2 separate regions of the Homo sapiens genome follow, and region 2 is linked to region 1. The links come from fine-mapping of genetic effects on gene expression. Tissue or cell type: esophagus muscle. Region 1 holds a variant in brackets; the other region holds the start of a gene. All regions are shown on one strand. Distances are between the middles of the regions.

Region 1 (8,185 bases):
AACCTCATGAAAATAGCCCCTGACTATCTTTTTTTTTTTTTTTGGAGACGGAGTCTCGCTCTGTCTCCAGGCTGGAGTGTGGTGGCGTGGTCTCGGCTCACTGCAACCTCCATCTCCCGGGTTCAAGCAATTCTCCTGCCTCAGCCTCCCAAGTAGCTGGGATTACAGGCATGTGCCACCACACCCAGCTAATTTTTGTATTTTTAGTAGAGACAGGGTTTCACCATGCTGGCCAGGATGGTCTTGATCTCCTGACCTCGTGATCCACCCCCCTTGGCCTCCCAAAGTGCTGGAATTACAGGCGTGAGCAACCACGCCTGGCCCCTGCCTATCGTCTGAACTTATTCCTGTATTCTCCTGTATTCTCAACTGGTTTCTAGACATTGCTACTTGGATAACTTATAGGTATTTCAAGTTCATATCCAAAATTCAACTCATCTTACTTTCCCTCCAAACAACCAAATAAAAAAGAGGGTGCGTCTCTTGTATTAGTTATGTCAGTTAATGCTACCATCCTCTATCTAATTTCCCAGACTAAAGACATCTGAATCAAGCTCAGCCTCCCTCTTCTTCACCCAACACAAATCCATCTATATTACTGCCCAGAGTTCCCATATCAGTCCTTTTTCTGTTACAGCTACTGTAGTTCAGGCTCTTAAACCATGGTCATAAGTGCCTCCTAACTGGGTTTCCTTGTATCAGTCTCTATCCCCAGTTGGTTTTATTCTTAGGTAAGAGTTTTCTTTGCAAATCTCATAGAAACATGGTCCTATTGGTTCTAACCTTCATTAACTCTGTATCCCCAGCGGTAATTTCTAAAGGCTCAACATAGTCGCGCATAGTTTAACTTCATCCTCTGCATTACTTTTCGTGCTTTTTTCTATATTAGCCACCCTGAACCACTTGCCTTTCCAAAATATTTTGTGCTCCTTCATACTGTTCCTTTAAATATTCTCACCTTTCTTTAGTGCACCTACCCCTTCCTCTGATCTCCACCATCCTTCTCATCCTAATCTCTTCAAAATCTCTAGAAAAATATAAACAAGCAAAACTCACCAAAAAATACTCTTAATCTTACCCACCCCGAGATAACTGCTGCCAACTCCTTCCACATCCTTCTTTGTTGTATGTTTTATTTTTTTCTTTTAGACTAGTCAAGTGCAGTAATGAGGAGGAAAGAGTAGAATACGGAGTTCAATCTGTGTTGTGTGTTTTAAGATGTGATTCATCTCATATGAATCAATGCTTCTCTAGCTGCTCTCTCTGTTTAGTAATATAATATGAACCTCTCACTGTATACATTTTTTTTTAAGTTCCGGTATACACGTGCAGATTTGTCACATAGGTATATATGTGCCATGGTGGTTTGCTGCACCTATCAACCCGTCATCTAGGTTTTAAGCCCTACATGCATTAGGTGTTTGTCCTAATGGTCTCCCTTTGCCCCCGACTCCCCGTGTGTTCTCATTGCTCAACTCCCACTTATGAGTGAGAACATGCGGTATTTGGTTTTCTGTTCCTGTATTAGTTTGCTGAGGATGATGGCATCCAGCTTCATCCATGTCCCTGCAAAGGACATGACATCATTCCTTTTTATGGCTGCATAGTATTCCATGGTGTATATGTACCACATTTTCTTTATCCAGTCTATCATTGATGGGCATTTGGGTTGGTTCCATGTCTTTGCTATTGTAAGTACTGCTTCAATAAACATACATGTGCATGTGTCTTTATAGTAGAATGATTTATATTCCTTTGGGTATATACCCAGTAATGGGATTGCTGAGTCCAATGGTATTTCTGGTTCTAGATCCTTGAGGAATCACCACACTGTCTTCCACAATGGTTGAACTAATTTACATTCCCACCAATAGTGCAAAACCATAAAAACCTCAGAAGAAAACCTAGGCAATACCATTCAGGACATAGGCATGGGCAAAGCCTTCATGACTAAAACACCAAAAGCAATTGCAACAAAAGCCAAAATTGACAAATGGGATCTAATTAAACTAAAGAGCTTCTGCACAGCAAAAGAAACTCGCATCAGAGTGAGCAGGCAACCTACAGAATGGGAGAAAAATTTTGCAATCTACCCATCTGACAAAGGTCTAATATCCAGAATCTACAAGGAACTTAAATTTACAAGAAAAAAACAAACAATCCCATCAAAAAGTGGGCAAAGGAAATGAACAGACACTTCTCAAAAGAAGATATTTATGTGGCCAAGAAACATATGAAAAAAAGCTCATCATCACTGATCATTAGAGAAATGCAAATCAAAACCACAATGAGATACTACCTCATGCCAGTCAGAGTGACGATTATTAAAAAGTCAAGAAACAATAGATGCTGGCAAGGCTGTGGAGAAATAAGAACGCTTTTACACTGTTTACATTTCTACAAAACTGTTTTTAATCATGAATGATATTCTTTTTTATTAAAATACCATCTTTTTGGGGGTCAATTTTTTTTCTAAATCTGCTTCCCCAGAGCTATGACTCTTGATCTAATGTCTTTGAGACCTTTATATATATTTTATATGAGTCTTAGAAACAGTATTTATAGAATATATCACATATGCACACTCATGTATTTGGTACAGATGATGCACATAACAGCTTACAACACATAATTGTGTGGACATTTCTTTTTGGTTTTTGGCTCAAGAATATATTATGGCCATCATTCAATGTGAAGACCTGCAAAGATAGTAAACCTCATTCATTTTAATGGTAGTATTGTATCCTATAGGATACATCAGAATTTGTGTATTTGCGCCAGGCGTGGTGGTTCACACCTGTAATCCTAGCACTTTGGGAGGCCAAGGCGGGCGGATCACAAGGTCAGGAGTTCGAGACCAGCCTGGCCAACATGGTGAGACCCCCATCTCTACCAAAAATAGAAAAATTAGCTGGGCACGGTGGTGTGCGCCTGTAATCCCAGCTACTCGTGAGGCTGAAGCAAGAGAATCGCTTGAACCTTGGGGGCAGAGGTTGCAGTGAGCCAAGATCGTGCCATTGCACTCCAGCCTGGGCGATAGAGCAAGACTCCATCTCAAAAAAAAAAAAAAAGAATTTGTGTATTTGTATCATTTTACTTAGTTTTATTATTAATCATTTTATTTAGAATGGATGCATCATAATGTAGTTATCATGGTGAGGAACACGGGTTGCCTTTAAACTTTTCAGTGTTACACATAGTGTTAGAATACACATCCTTATTCGGTATATTTTGTATACTTAGAGGAGTGTTTCTGTGGGATAGTTTCTTAGAACCTTTTGATTCTTAGATAATTAATTCAAGTATTAGCTCTGTGGAGCTGTTTCTGATCGCTCATAGGCAGAGTTCATTAGTCATTTGCCTGTATTCTCATAATACTTTGTAGATTCTTTTTATAATACTTATGTTTTATTTTCATTTTTAATTTACATGTTTGTTTTCCCACTTGATAGTCAGCTCTTCACCTGAGAATAGGGAGGGAAGAGGATGCAGCCCAGTGCCCAGCTCATAGCAGTGCTTACAGATTCTCCTGACATTTAAATTATTTAGTGTTGTCTGGTTGCTCCTGCTTTGTTCTACAGGTTAAACTCCATCTATCTGCATAATCAGATTGATAGAAATGTTCAATCTGAGGTTGAGGATTACATGATGATTAAGGATGAGGTAATTATGTAGTTGTGTATGTGTGTGTGTCTTTTAAGAAAAAATGGGAGGTACACAGAAACTGTGTAAGTTGGAAATTTACCATTTATAATTCTTTCCTTTCTAGGTGTTTCAGGCCTCACCTGAAGATCATGAAAAATACGGTGGGGATCCACAGAACCCTCATAAACTGCATATTGTTACCAGAATAAAAAGTACAAGAAGACGTCCATATTGGGAAAAAGATATAATAAAGATGCTTGGATTAGAAAAAGTATGCAATTATTTTAATCATCTTTAGTGTTGTTTACATTGCTTTAAATTTTATACTTTTAAAACTTTGCGGTATACATTTATTATTTATTTTGTATTACTTAGGGTAATTTATTTATAAATTTGGCTTAGAATGAACCTTCAATTTAACATTTTACTGAAACATGGAACTATCTGCTTTTCAGATTGATAACGTTGCTTTGTTGTTGTTGTTCACAGGCACATACCCCTCAAGTTCACAAGAATATCCCTTCAGTGAATGCAAAATTGAAAGTAGTTAAGCATTTGATAAGGTTTGTTGTTTCTTCTCAGCTCTTTTTAAAATGTATTGCCTAGTGTAATTCTAAATGCATTTTTCTTTTTTCGTTAATGTTCTGAAAAAAACTTTTTAAAAAACTAAAATTTTATTTTGTTTTTTTTTAATTGACACATAATAATTGTACATATTTATGGGGTACATAGTGACGTTTCAATATATATAAAGTATAGTGATCCGATCAGGGTAATTGGCATATCCATCATCTCAGACATTTACCATTTCTTCATGTTGGGAACATTCAACATCCTCCTCCTAGCTATTTGAAACTATGTGTTATTGTTAACTGTAGTTATCCTGCGGGGATATAGAACGCTAGAACGTATTCCTCCTATCTAAACGCATTTTCTTGTGTCACAGAATCAAGCCCTTGAAGTTGCCACAAGGACTTCCAGCAGAGGAGAACATGTCTAACACGTGCCTCAAAAGCAC[T/C]GGGGAGTTAGTAGTGCAGTGGCATCTGAAACCTGTGGAGCAGAAAGCACATGAGTCCTAATGCCCCAGCAGCTTCCGATTGGAAAATGCAAATTGTTTTTATTTAAAGATGGTGAGAAAGTGTTTTCATTAAAATATGTTTTCAAAACCATTTTCAGGCCGGGCACGGTGGCTCACCTGTAATCCCAGCACTTTGGGAGGCCAAGGCGGGCAGATCACCTGAGGTCAAGAGTTCGAGACCAGCCTGACCAACATGGAGAAACCCCCATCTCTACTGAAAATACAGAATTAGCCAGGCATGGTGGCACATGCCTGTAACCCAGCTACTCGGGAGGCTGAAGCAGGAGAATCACTTGAACCCGGGAGGCAGAGGTTGCAGTGAGCTGAGATGGTGCCACTGTACTCCAGCCTGGGTGATAGGATGAGACTCCATCTCAGGGGAAAAAAAAAAATTTTTTTTTCACTGACTAAACCTGCTGCAGCTCTCTTTTACTACAGACTTGGAGATTTTAGTTTAATTTGGTTTAATTCTCTGTCCTTTCCCTTTCACTGTTTCACTCCAAAACATGTAAGAATGGCAATGTTTGAACATCTGCGTTTGGGTCTACTGCCACCTTAGCAAGCCTCATTAACCATTTTATAAAAATTGCGTTAGTATTGTTGTTGTTGTTTTTGAGACAGGGTCTTGCTCTGTCACCCAAGCTGGAATACAGTGGCATGATTTCAGTTCACTGCAGCCTCGACCTCCCAGGCTCAAGTGATCCTCCCACCTCAGCCTCCAGAGTAGCTAGGACTACAGGCAGTGTGCCACCACATCCAGCTAATTTTTTAAAGTTTTTTCATAGAGACAGGGACTCACTATGTTGTCCAAGCTGGTCTCAAACTCCTGGGTTCAAGCCATCCTCCCACCTCAGCCTCCCAAAATGCTGGGATTACAGGCATGAGCCACTGTACCCAGCCAAAATTGTTTTCTTTTTTAAGTGAATTCAACAATTTCTGTGAGTGGCTCTTTGCATGAACACTGTGCAAGGTGTTGGAGAAATCCAAAGCTGACCAAAACATGGTCCCCACCTTTTGGAGCTTACAGTCTGTTCTGGGGAACAGAGATTCAGCCAAAGTCAAGAAACACTGGATGCCAGCTAGATTATCTGTTCTGTGCTTTGGTGTCTATAAGTACATATGTGGATATGGGTTCATTTTATCCCTAAACTTAGTACCAAACCAGCATTTAATATCTAATTATAAATCTAATTTGGCCTAAACTTTATTATTGCACACTGCCTGAACAAAACCTATTTGTCTCTATGTAAATTTTTTCCTCATGGAACAAGGGTGTGAAATGAAAATATTTTAGGATTTATTCAAAAACAGACTATTCTGTTTTCAGCTTCAGAATTGTTCTTTGAATCCTAAGGAACCTCTGTCAACAGTTGAGGTTGCTGTTGAAAAGAAAGAAGAAGGAGGCGGAAATCTCTCAGGGAGAATTATTTCCTTTCTTTTCTATTTTAGATACCTGGAGGGGTGGGGAGAAGTAAGAATTGTAAGGGAGGTTCAGTAGTGGGGAATTCTGTGACAGCTGATTGAAGATGATGATGAAGAACCTCTGCATTCTAGTTACCCTTTGCTTCCCTTCACCTCTTGTAAAATTTGGCTTGGCAACAATGACATTGTCATGCTTATTGTCCCAATATCCATCCTGTCGTAGATCTTAATGTTTTTGATCGTTGCGTTAAAGTGGAAGTGCCACCCACAGTGAAACCAGATCCCATTAATAAATAAGCTTAAAGGCAACTGCAGTTTTAATTCCATAGTTATTGAATATCCAGTGTGTGTAAGGCCTGGAGGGGAGCCAAAGGACACTAACTTCTAAGAGCTCCGTCTAGTTGGAGAGAAACCTGTGTGCCACAACATACAGTGTCCTTGCTTATGTGGGGTCGAAGACATCTGTGAAAATAAAAGCAGCCTCTGCTAATTTAGCGCCATCTCTTTTACTGTGCTAATTTTTTTTTCTTTAGAGACAGGGTCTCACTCTGTCGCCCAGCCTGGAGGGCAGTGGTGTGATCGTAGCTCACTATTACCTCCAACTCTTGGGCTCAAGTGATCCTCCCACCTCAGCCTCCTGAGCAGCTAGGACTACAGATACATGCCACCGCTCCCGGCTAGTATTTTTTAAAATTTTTTGTAGAGCCAAGTGTTGCTATGTTGTCCACACTGATCTGGAGCTTCTAATCTCAAATGATTCTCCTGCCTCAGCCTCCCAAAGTGCTGGGAATACAGGTGTGAGCCACCATACCTGGCCTTACTGTACTAATATTAATATTGTGTAAATAGGGGAAAATACCATGGTTAATTTTTACTCAAACAGTAAGAAAGTTTGAGTAACTAATTTTAATCTCAACAGCCCATAGCTAGAAGAGGGGATCTAAATGTTAAGTTGAATATTTAGAAATAAAAGTGTCTACAAGAAGAAAAGTCTTTAGTGAAAATATGGGCATAGGCCAGCAGCATTAGCTTTCTATTGCTGCAGAACAAATTACCACAAACTTAGCTGCTTAAAACAACACACACTTATTGTCTCACAATGTTTGTGGGTCGGAAGTCTAGGCGTGGCTTAGCTGGGTAGTCTGTTTAGGATCTCAGTGCTGGAAAAACGTGTCTGGCCAGGTGCTCATTGTAGCTTTGACAGGGAAGGGATCTGCTCCCAAGCACTCTCAGGTTGTTGGCAGAATTTGTTTCCTTATGGCTGTAGGATTCATGGCAAGTTGCTTCTTCCAAAACCAGCATTGGAGACAGACTAGCAAGATGGGCACTACACTCTTAGATAATCAAATAAATGCAATCATGTGCCTCGTGTCACCTTTTTTGCATTCCATTCATTAAGAACAAGTTGCAGTTCCTACCTACACTCAAGGAAGGGAGGAATTACACAGAAGTGTGACCACAGGAGGCAGGGCTCATGGAGGCCTCCTTAAAGTCCCCCAGCCAAACCTGAAAAGTCAATCCTGGACCTTATCATAGTGGCTGTATAGTTTAGAAGGTTTCTTCAGATTGGCATTCCTTTGCCTCATATCATCACTTCAAAACCCTATAAGGGTTTGTTCCTCGGTCTTGACTTTGTGTCTTTGAGGATTGCTTTGTTTAGTGTCACCTGCCTTCTTTCAGGAGGTTTTGCCTGACATCTGGTGGTGACCGTGGCCACCAAGTCAACCCAAACACTACCTTTAAGGACGACTGCAGTTCTCTTAGGGTCTCCTCAATCTAAAATTGTACCTCTTTCAGGCCAAACACCTATTTTCTTCATTTTTTTTTTCTCATAAGAATGCTAGCTAGTATGCCTATTATCTAACTGGCACAGTTTCACCAAGGACAGTTTGGAACTACACAGGCCATTTTAGGGAGATTTTGACATGAACAAGATTGCTTCTTTGGGAGGTACCTTAAAATGAAAAGCAAAGAAACTTCCATGCGGAGATTGTCTTGTTTTTCTCAAAATGGGATAATTTTGCTTAACATAAGTAGTAT
Region 2 (8,185 bases), 61 kb after region 1:
TTTGTATTTTTAGTAGAGATGGTGTATCACTGTGTTAGCCAGGATGGTCTCAATCTCCTGACCTCTTGATCCGCCTGCCTCGGCCTCCCAAAGTGCAGGGATTACAGGTGTGAGCCACCGTGCCCAGCCCAAAAATTTTTACAGGTGAAATGTTTTTATCTCACTGCAAGCTCCGCCTCCCAAGTTCATGCCATTCTCCTGCCTCAGCCTCCCAAGTAGCTGGGACTACAGGTGCCTGCCACCACACCTGGCTAATTTTTTGTATTTTTAGTAGAGATGGTGTATCACTGTGTTAGCCAGGATGGTCTCAATCTCCTGACCTCTTGATCCGCCTGCCTCGGCCTCCCAAAGTGCAGGGATTACAGGTGTGAGCCACCGTGCCCAGCCCAAAAATTTTTACAGGTGAAATGTTTTTATCTCCCTCCCTTCCTCTCACTCTTTCCCTCTCTCTTCCCTTTTTCCTCTCACTCTCTTACTGTTCGTTCCTCTCACTAGAAGATAAATTTCATTAGGTCAGATACTAGATGTTTTTCTCTGCTATATCCTCCTCAGCACCTGGAACAATGCTTGGCACAAAGTAGACATTTAATAAACATTTGCTGAATGGAAGAATGGATAGTTGGATGGATGAAGGAATGAGACAGAAAGGGATTGTTTAAATTATCTGGATCAAGTGTCCTTATATTGACAGGTTCAGTATCCTTTCACTGGGAGGCAGTCTTTGCCAGGCTCACTGTGTGGCCCACAGACCACAGGCATCAAAGTTACCCAGGAAGCTTATTAAAAATGCTTATCACTGGGCCGGGCGTGGTGGCTCACACCTATAATCCCAGCACTTTGGGAGGCCAAGGCGGACGGATCACGAGGTCAGGAGATCAAGACCATCCTGGGTAACACAGTGAAACCCTGTCTCTACTAAAAATACAAAAAAATTAGCTGGGCATGATGGTGGGCGCCTGTAGTCCCAGCTACTTGGGAGGCTGAGGCAGAAGAATGGTATGAACCCAGGAGGCAGAGCTTGCAGTGAGCTGAGATCGCACCACTGCACTCTCCAGCCTGGGCGACAGAGCAAGACTCTGTCTCAAAAAAAAAAAAAAAAAAAAAGGCTTATCACTGGGCTTTTCACACCAGATCTACTGCACCAAAATCTTGCAGTATAAGGCGAAAGAAGCTGCCTTTTACCCAGCATTCCCAGTTGACTCTTACACATGTTTATGAACCACTGCTTTAAGGGAACTGGAATATGACCATGGACCCTACGCTGCCTGTGTAGGCCTTATAAACACACAAGCCCTTTTTAAATTAAGAGTCACCTTTCAGCTATACACAGCTAATATGGTAGCTCATAATTAATCTACTGGCTATTTAACTCTGCTCTCACCTGGCAATCTAAAAAGAGTAAAAATTTAAAACTATGTTGCCCTGTTTTGACCATAAGTAACTGGAAATTACTTTCGGGTAGCCTTGTTTTTCCAAATTTAGAATTAAACATTTTAGAAACACTTTCCTTTCAGTCACCATTCTATAATTAAAGACAACTTGAACATTGCTCATAATGGCTTTTCATTTTGCTTAGGTCAGAGTTTTCACATTCTCTTATTCAAGATCCCTTACCAACTTACCAACCTATCTTTCCAGCCTTCCCCCCAGAAACCCCCTCGTCTGTCCAGACCACACTGACCCAAAGACTTTTCATTCATTTCTGCCTCTGCTTTTTTACTGAAATCTTTCTTCCCATCCAGCAGGCTCTTCCTTTTTCTTATTAAATCACCAAGCATCCTTCAATTGACATGTCCCCCCCAAAAGCCTTTCACATCTGAGCATTCTAGTTGGATGTGAGCTCTTCCTCCCAAACCTTTCCCAGACTAGTGCTTTTTTCCCACCTATACACATTGAACTCTCATCCACTGCTTGGCATTGATAATTGTCTCTTCATGTGTTTTGCTTCCAAGGCACTGTTCCATATACCTCTCGGTAAGGTATCCAGCCTGATAGGTGCATTGTCAGACAGGAAGTAAGCAGATCAATAAATATTAGATTATTTGAAATTCCCATAGATCCTGTTTTTCACCTGCTTAGCAAGCAGAACACACTGTTAATTATAGAAATAATAGTTGATTAATGGCCAAGCTGGTCAGAATGAGAGCCCACTCTTCCATTACAGGTAATCATTGCTCTTTCTGATTCATGATTGTGCTGGAGGTTTTTGTGGACACCCTGTGAACAATGCTAAATCTCAGCCAGTGACTTACCAATGAGGGCAATTAGTCCCCAAAACACCACGGAGGATAACATGGCGGGGAATCTTATCTTCCAGGACCTGCTCTGATTTGAAATAGAAACTGGTTAATTTTAAAACCTGAAAATTTCCTAAAGAAAAATTTGCTTTGATATTTTAAAAAGTTTAGAGTTATTTCCAATTCACTACTCATTTCCCTGTTTCAAGATAGTATTCTCACAGGCTCAGTACATAGTTTGTTGGCACACTCTCTTTCTTAAGCATAAACTCCTAATCTCACTTCAATCCAATTTCATATTGACATGAGTCATGCGTATCTTACATATGTAACTAAATATACACTCCCATCCCACCTCTAAGCTTGGTAACACCACAATTTTGTTCCCTTTCTTTTTAAAAAAAAAAATACTGATCTTTTCATTCTAGTTATTCACCCTACCCCTGGCTTCAAGGATCAGTTTTGGTCTTTCATTCATTTATTTAGAAATGGGATCTTGCTCTGTCACCCAGGCTGGAGTGCAGTGGCATAATCATAGCTCACTATGGCCTCAAACTCCTGGGCTCAAGCGATCCTCCCACCTCAGCCTCCTGAGTAGCTGGGGCGACATATGCGTGCCACCATGCCTGGGTGTTTCCATTCTTATACCAGGGTCTCCGTAGGGAAAACAAAATAAAACAAAATACCAACAGGAGCATGAGAACGTGACTTAGAAGAGGTTTCCTCTGCTCCATTTCTTCCTCAATCAACTCTATTCTTGGTTTCATTCAAATGGTAGCTTATAAGTTTTACAAGACATAAGAAGGCCAGCACTAACCTTGTTTGCAACCTTACAGAGAAAATCTCCCCTCTCTGTTTGCAAAGGTCTTCTGTACTCAGCAGCAAACTGCACTTCAAGCTTTTACAAAGCGACGGCCTTTGTCCTGTAACATAGGCTTAACAATTGGAGAATCCATTAGTCAGTAGATCACTGCGCACCTGGCTTCAACAGAGTAGACATCAGCGTGGCTCTACTGCTGTGGAGGAAACTTTTAAACACCAGCATGAAGACTCACCTGGCTTTTCTTACCTTCGTCCTGTACCAATGATCATTAGAGGAGCTTTATATATGGTTTAAAACCCTCTCTTTAAACCATTGACCTCATTAGGCCTGGTTATAATAGTACTTAGGACTTAGGTGACCCAATTAATAAGAGGATTTCAAAGGGCTTATTAACCACTATTAATTAATTAACCTAATGAACCCCCAAGTTGCTCAGGAGGCATATTTTGATAGATTGTTTCTAGATATCTAAAATTGTGCCAAACAGCTTCTAAATTTGCGAATAAGAAACAGATAATTCACTTTAAAAGGATAACAGGAAATACTAGCAATTTTTATTCTTGGATTGGTTATTTACCTGAAATATTGGGTCTCCTGCTTTTTGTTCCCATTCCAATGTCATATGATCCCCGTACCAGTATGTCACATGATCTCAAACCACTATGTCACATGATCATGATAGGTGAACTTGGCTCCTTACTCCAATCCCACTTCTGAGAAAAAGGTGCAAGTGTGGCCACCTGCTCTAGGAGATCAATGCAAAACCAGGGAGTAGCAACGTGAGTGCTCATTTGCCCATACTTGCTAAGGATATGGGAAAAAAGATTATAGCCAGGGATGAAAACTTCTTCAAGAAGAGAGTATCTTTCTTCAGGCTTATGTCCAAAGGAAGAGAGGAAGCATATTGTGCAGCCCCAGGAACAGGAAATGGAAGGGACGTTCTTGAAACAGGCAAAGCACATTGCGCTGAGGGGAGGAAGAAGTCTGGTCTGGGTCCTTCCACAAGCGTGTCCAGTTTCTCAGACTGCACACAGTCCTCCCCCACATCCACTGAGTGAAGAAAGGTGGAAGGCAGCTGTACAGGGAACAGGAAGACAAAACCACAGGCAACTTCCCAGCTCCCTGGCAATAAAACCACCTCCACTCCCAGGAGAACATGCCCTCCCCAAGCTGAGGTCTGCACAGTCCACTGGCATTCACTTCTGCCCTGCCTGCCTTCCTGCTTGTAGAACAGACGTCTCTGGCATGGCCTCTAGCCTTCCATCCCTGGAAGAGTGGCAGGGCTGTTCTGAGCCAATGGATGATTCCTACCTGACTCTCAGGAAAGTGACCCATGGAGGGTCTGCTCCACCACCATCAACACTGCAGTCAGGACCACTCTTGAATAAGGGATATTGCAGGAGTCTAACTGCCCTGAGGCAGGCCTTAGAAACCCATAGTCTATGACCCAGCGACATTGTGCCCGTGACCCACTTCACTGCAGGGTGAGTAGAGCCACTTACCTGAGGCTTCCAGGCTAAGTGCAATGAGAAAGCTCAAGAAAGGGAGATTAAGAAGTTACGAATGATAAGTTAGGTAAAAGAGAGTAGGTGGAGGCTGGGGCTCTCCCTACATGCACTGGAAGAAGACATTGTTAATAAAACATTTAAAGCACTGTTGAATGTGAAGAATACTTATCCTTCTGCTCTCAGTTAGTGGGGCTACGAGTCCTTCTAGGTATGAGGTCCTTAATGTCCAGGCTTCTGCAACTCAACCAAAATTGTTTTCAAACTGATGTGGATTGTTCTGTTCACTCAAGCTGTGAGAGAACAATTGAACATTTATTTGACACCCAACATTAGTCAGGTTCCTATGGATATTATATGACTCAATCCTCCACTGGCCCTGTGAGGCAGGTATTATCCCTTATTTTAGAGATGAGGAAACTGTGACTCAGAGAAGCTAAGTAACTTGTCAAAGATGGCACAGTTAGCATGTGACAGAGCCAGGATTTGAATCTAGGCCTGTAAGATTCCAAAATCCATGCTCTTCCACTGTATCGAAGTGCCAGCACGATGGACAAATGCCTCTGCAGAGCAATCATTGCAACAGGTCCAAATCAATCTGGATACAAAGCATTGTCCGTGGTCTGGAAAAATAACACCACTCACAGATTTTTATACCACTATCTGTCAAATGTTTGTAGGTGCTGTTGTAATTTCTAAAATGCAAATTAATATAAGTTAACTAAGTCCAAAGTGGTTTTTTGTCACTTTATATTTTCTCCACCAGTAATAATAATGTAGTTAATACGCACTGACCTTGTATGGTATGACTGGTAGAATAATAGGAAGGGGCATAACCTAAGTTTGTTACATTCTGAAGCCTAACTCTTAACTGCAGTACCCTACTGACCCAGTGGATGGTTAAGTGTGGGTACTATTGTATAATGACCTTAGAAATTTCTTGTCACTAAGAAGAAATGTACTGAATAATTCTCCATCTCTTCCCAGGGATACCAAGAATGACTACATGTAAGTTGTACTGTTATTTCCAGGAGGGGCTTGAAGGGAACTTGGCACCTGTCATAATCTCTATCAGTCCCCAAAATAAAAACACAATCTATATGCAAGCAATTTCTGTGCTATACAAATAAAACTCTATGGCCTGGTCCCCTACCCCTCAAATCAGTTGCCTGCTCCTAAGACTCTTCAGTGCAGCAATTCTCTGGCAGCTTCTGGGGAGTCCTAACAGATTTGGGGTTCCTGGCTTCAGTGGTGGAGACTCCAATCATCCCTAACGACTAAATGGCCTCAGCAATTGGAAAACTTCAATGGGAAAGTTTAAGCAGTACTGTCCTAGTTAGGAGGAGAGGAATGATTATGAAAACTGAGGTACTCTGTATAGCCAGGGAAGTAGATTCTGGTAGGAGTTCCTGGCAAGACTTCTCAATTCATACCACACAAAGACCTGCCCTTGTGCCCTGAGCTACCCTAGGTTAGCACTTTTGGGAGTTAAAGGAATCCAGCACCTCAGGCTCCCTTGGTCCCCTCGCCCTCTGCGTCCCCACCTGCCTCCCTCCCAACACTAGTCTGTGCTAATAGAGACTGGGTTGTCTCCGCCATGTCATTATTTGTGAATCCCAGGCACAGCTTTCCCTTCTCAGGAACAACAGCCAAGGAGGATGACCATAGCCAACTCATTTAACCTCCCTGAGCCTTAATTTTCCTCATCTGTAAAATGGAGATGATAATAATGCCCCATGACTTTGTTTTGAAGACAAAAATAAATTTTATATGTAAAAACATGTTATAAACTACAGTGCTTCATAGAGATGCCAGTTACTATCATGATGGGTTTGCACTCAAGTCCTGATGGCTTAGCTTCTTGTTGATTTATTCATTTGTTTGTTTATCCATGCACTCAGGAAAAATAAACAGCTGAATTATAGGACAGGAAGTAGGAGGTGAAGTCTCTCTCCAGCCATGAAGAAAACTTGGCAGGACAAGCAAGAGCTATTCATTGTCAGGACTCTGTAGCCTGCCTGGTAGGAGTGGAGGAAGGATAAGTTCAGAAACAGCCACACAAGCAGCTGCAGCCCAAGCATCTGTTTCACAGCTCTGAAACCTATAAAATGGGGGAGCTGCCCAAGAATATGTGGCAAAGGTACTTTGGCGCCAATGGCTGGTAAGAAGGCAGAAGGGGAGCCCTTCCATAAAATTTCACTAAAACATTCAACTTAACCCCAGGATATATCAATGTCAAGCTTTAACTGCTGTGTGCTTTTCTTGTCTTGGTTTTAATCTACTATATGATAGGTAAAATGCAGGGTATGCCCTGTTGAAGAAGCCACTTATATGGTTGCATTATTGGTCTTCCAATGTCAAACATTTGACCAACATTTCAGGAAAGAAGATATACAAATGGCCAATAAAGCTCATGAAAAATTGGTAAACATCTTTACACATCAGGGAAATGCAAAATAAAACCAAAATGAGACAGTATTTCACACTCTCTAAAAAGGCTAAAACCAAAGACTAGCTATATCACATATTGGTGAGAATATGAAACAAAACAGAACTCTCATACATTGCTGGTTGGAGTATAAAATGGTATGATTGCTTTGTAGTACTGTTCAGCAGTTTCTAACAAAGTAAATAACTATATGCCTCAGGAATTTTATTTCTAGTTATTTACCCAAGAGCAATGAAAAAAAAAAAAATGTCTCCCAAAAGACTTGTATGAGAATCTTCACAGATTGTAAGTTCTGCAAAGAGAAAAGAAAAAAAAAGAATTTTTACAGTGCTTTATTCATAATAGCTCAAAACTGGAAACACTCCAAAAAATTCATCAACAGAAGAATGGACTAACAGTTGTAGTATAACGATATAATGGAAAAATACACAAGTTAAAAAAAAAATCCAGGAAAAAATTCCAATGAACCTGGGCTGGGTCAGGTGCCCACCTCTGGATCATTCAACCATGTCTAGGAATATATTTGTTTGAAAAAGGGACTCCCTGTGGTTTGGAAAGGAGAAGGGAGAAGTCTGAAACAAAATTTTAAAGTAACGTTTTCATTTTGAAATAGTTTAAATTTCACAAGAAGCTTCAAAAATAGTACCAAGAGTTCTCATGTACCCTTCACCCAGCTTCCCCCAATGGCAATGTCTTACATAACTATAGTACATGTCAAATCCAGAACATTACCATTAGTATTATACAATACTGTAAACTTAGGTACAGACCTTATTTGGATTTCCCCAGTTTGTTTTTACACGCTCTTTTAAAAAAAATATTTATTTATATTTCAGAAGCGTATAGTACTGTGAACGTTTATCCCACAGGTAGATGCAAGTAACCATCACCATAATCAGGATACAGAACTGACCCATCACCATAAAAAGACTGCCTCATGATATCCCCTAACTATGTCTTTCATTGTGCCAAAAGTAAACTTTTTTTTTTTTTTTTTTTTGATGGAGACTCACTGTTGTCAGCCTGGGCTGGAGGGCAGTGGCATGATCTCGGATCACTGCAACTTCCACCTTCCAGGTTCCAGCAATTCTCCTGCCTCAACCTCCTGAGTAGCTGAGATTACAGGTGCCCACCACCACACCTGGCTAATTTTTGTATTTTTTAGTAGAGA

Which allele goes with the higher level. Positions count from the first base shown, and alleles are read on the strand shown. Sizes are in standard deviations (SD) of each study's normalised expression.
For the expression in esophagus muscle of the gene that starts at base 3,701 in region 2, allele T in region 1 goes with a lower level than allele C (large effect, 0.82 SD a copy in GTEx).

Evidence for each region. PIP is the estimated chance that this variant, and not a neighbour inherited with it, causes the effect.
Region 2: it holds the start of LYG2, and the variant in region 1 is the best candidate, but not a certain one, in a credible set for the expression of LYG2 in esophagus muscle (GTEx, PIP 0.58).

What each region holds. Positions count from the first base shown.
Region 1 is chr2:99,190,982-99,199,166 of GRCh38, forward strand. It overlaps MRPL30 (mitochondrial ribosomal protein L30), which reads left to right. Exons shown (of 6, transcript NM_145212.4): 4 at 3,770-3,916; 5 at 4,135-4,208; 6 at 4,592-8,185. The coding sequence ends at 4,724. Among named protein-coding and RNA genes, the nearest start is that of MRPL30, 14 kb to the left of the region's middle. The variant T/C (reference allele first, on the strand shown) is at 4,664.
Region 2 is chr2:99,251,966-99,260,150 of GRCh38, forward strand. It overlaps LYG2 (lysozyme g2), which reads right to left and starts at 3,701. Exons shown (of 7, transcript NM_175735.4): 1 at 3,638-3,701; 2 at 3,055-3,172; 3 at 2,253-2,320. The coding sequence starts at 2,295.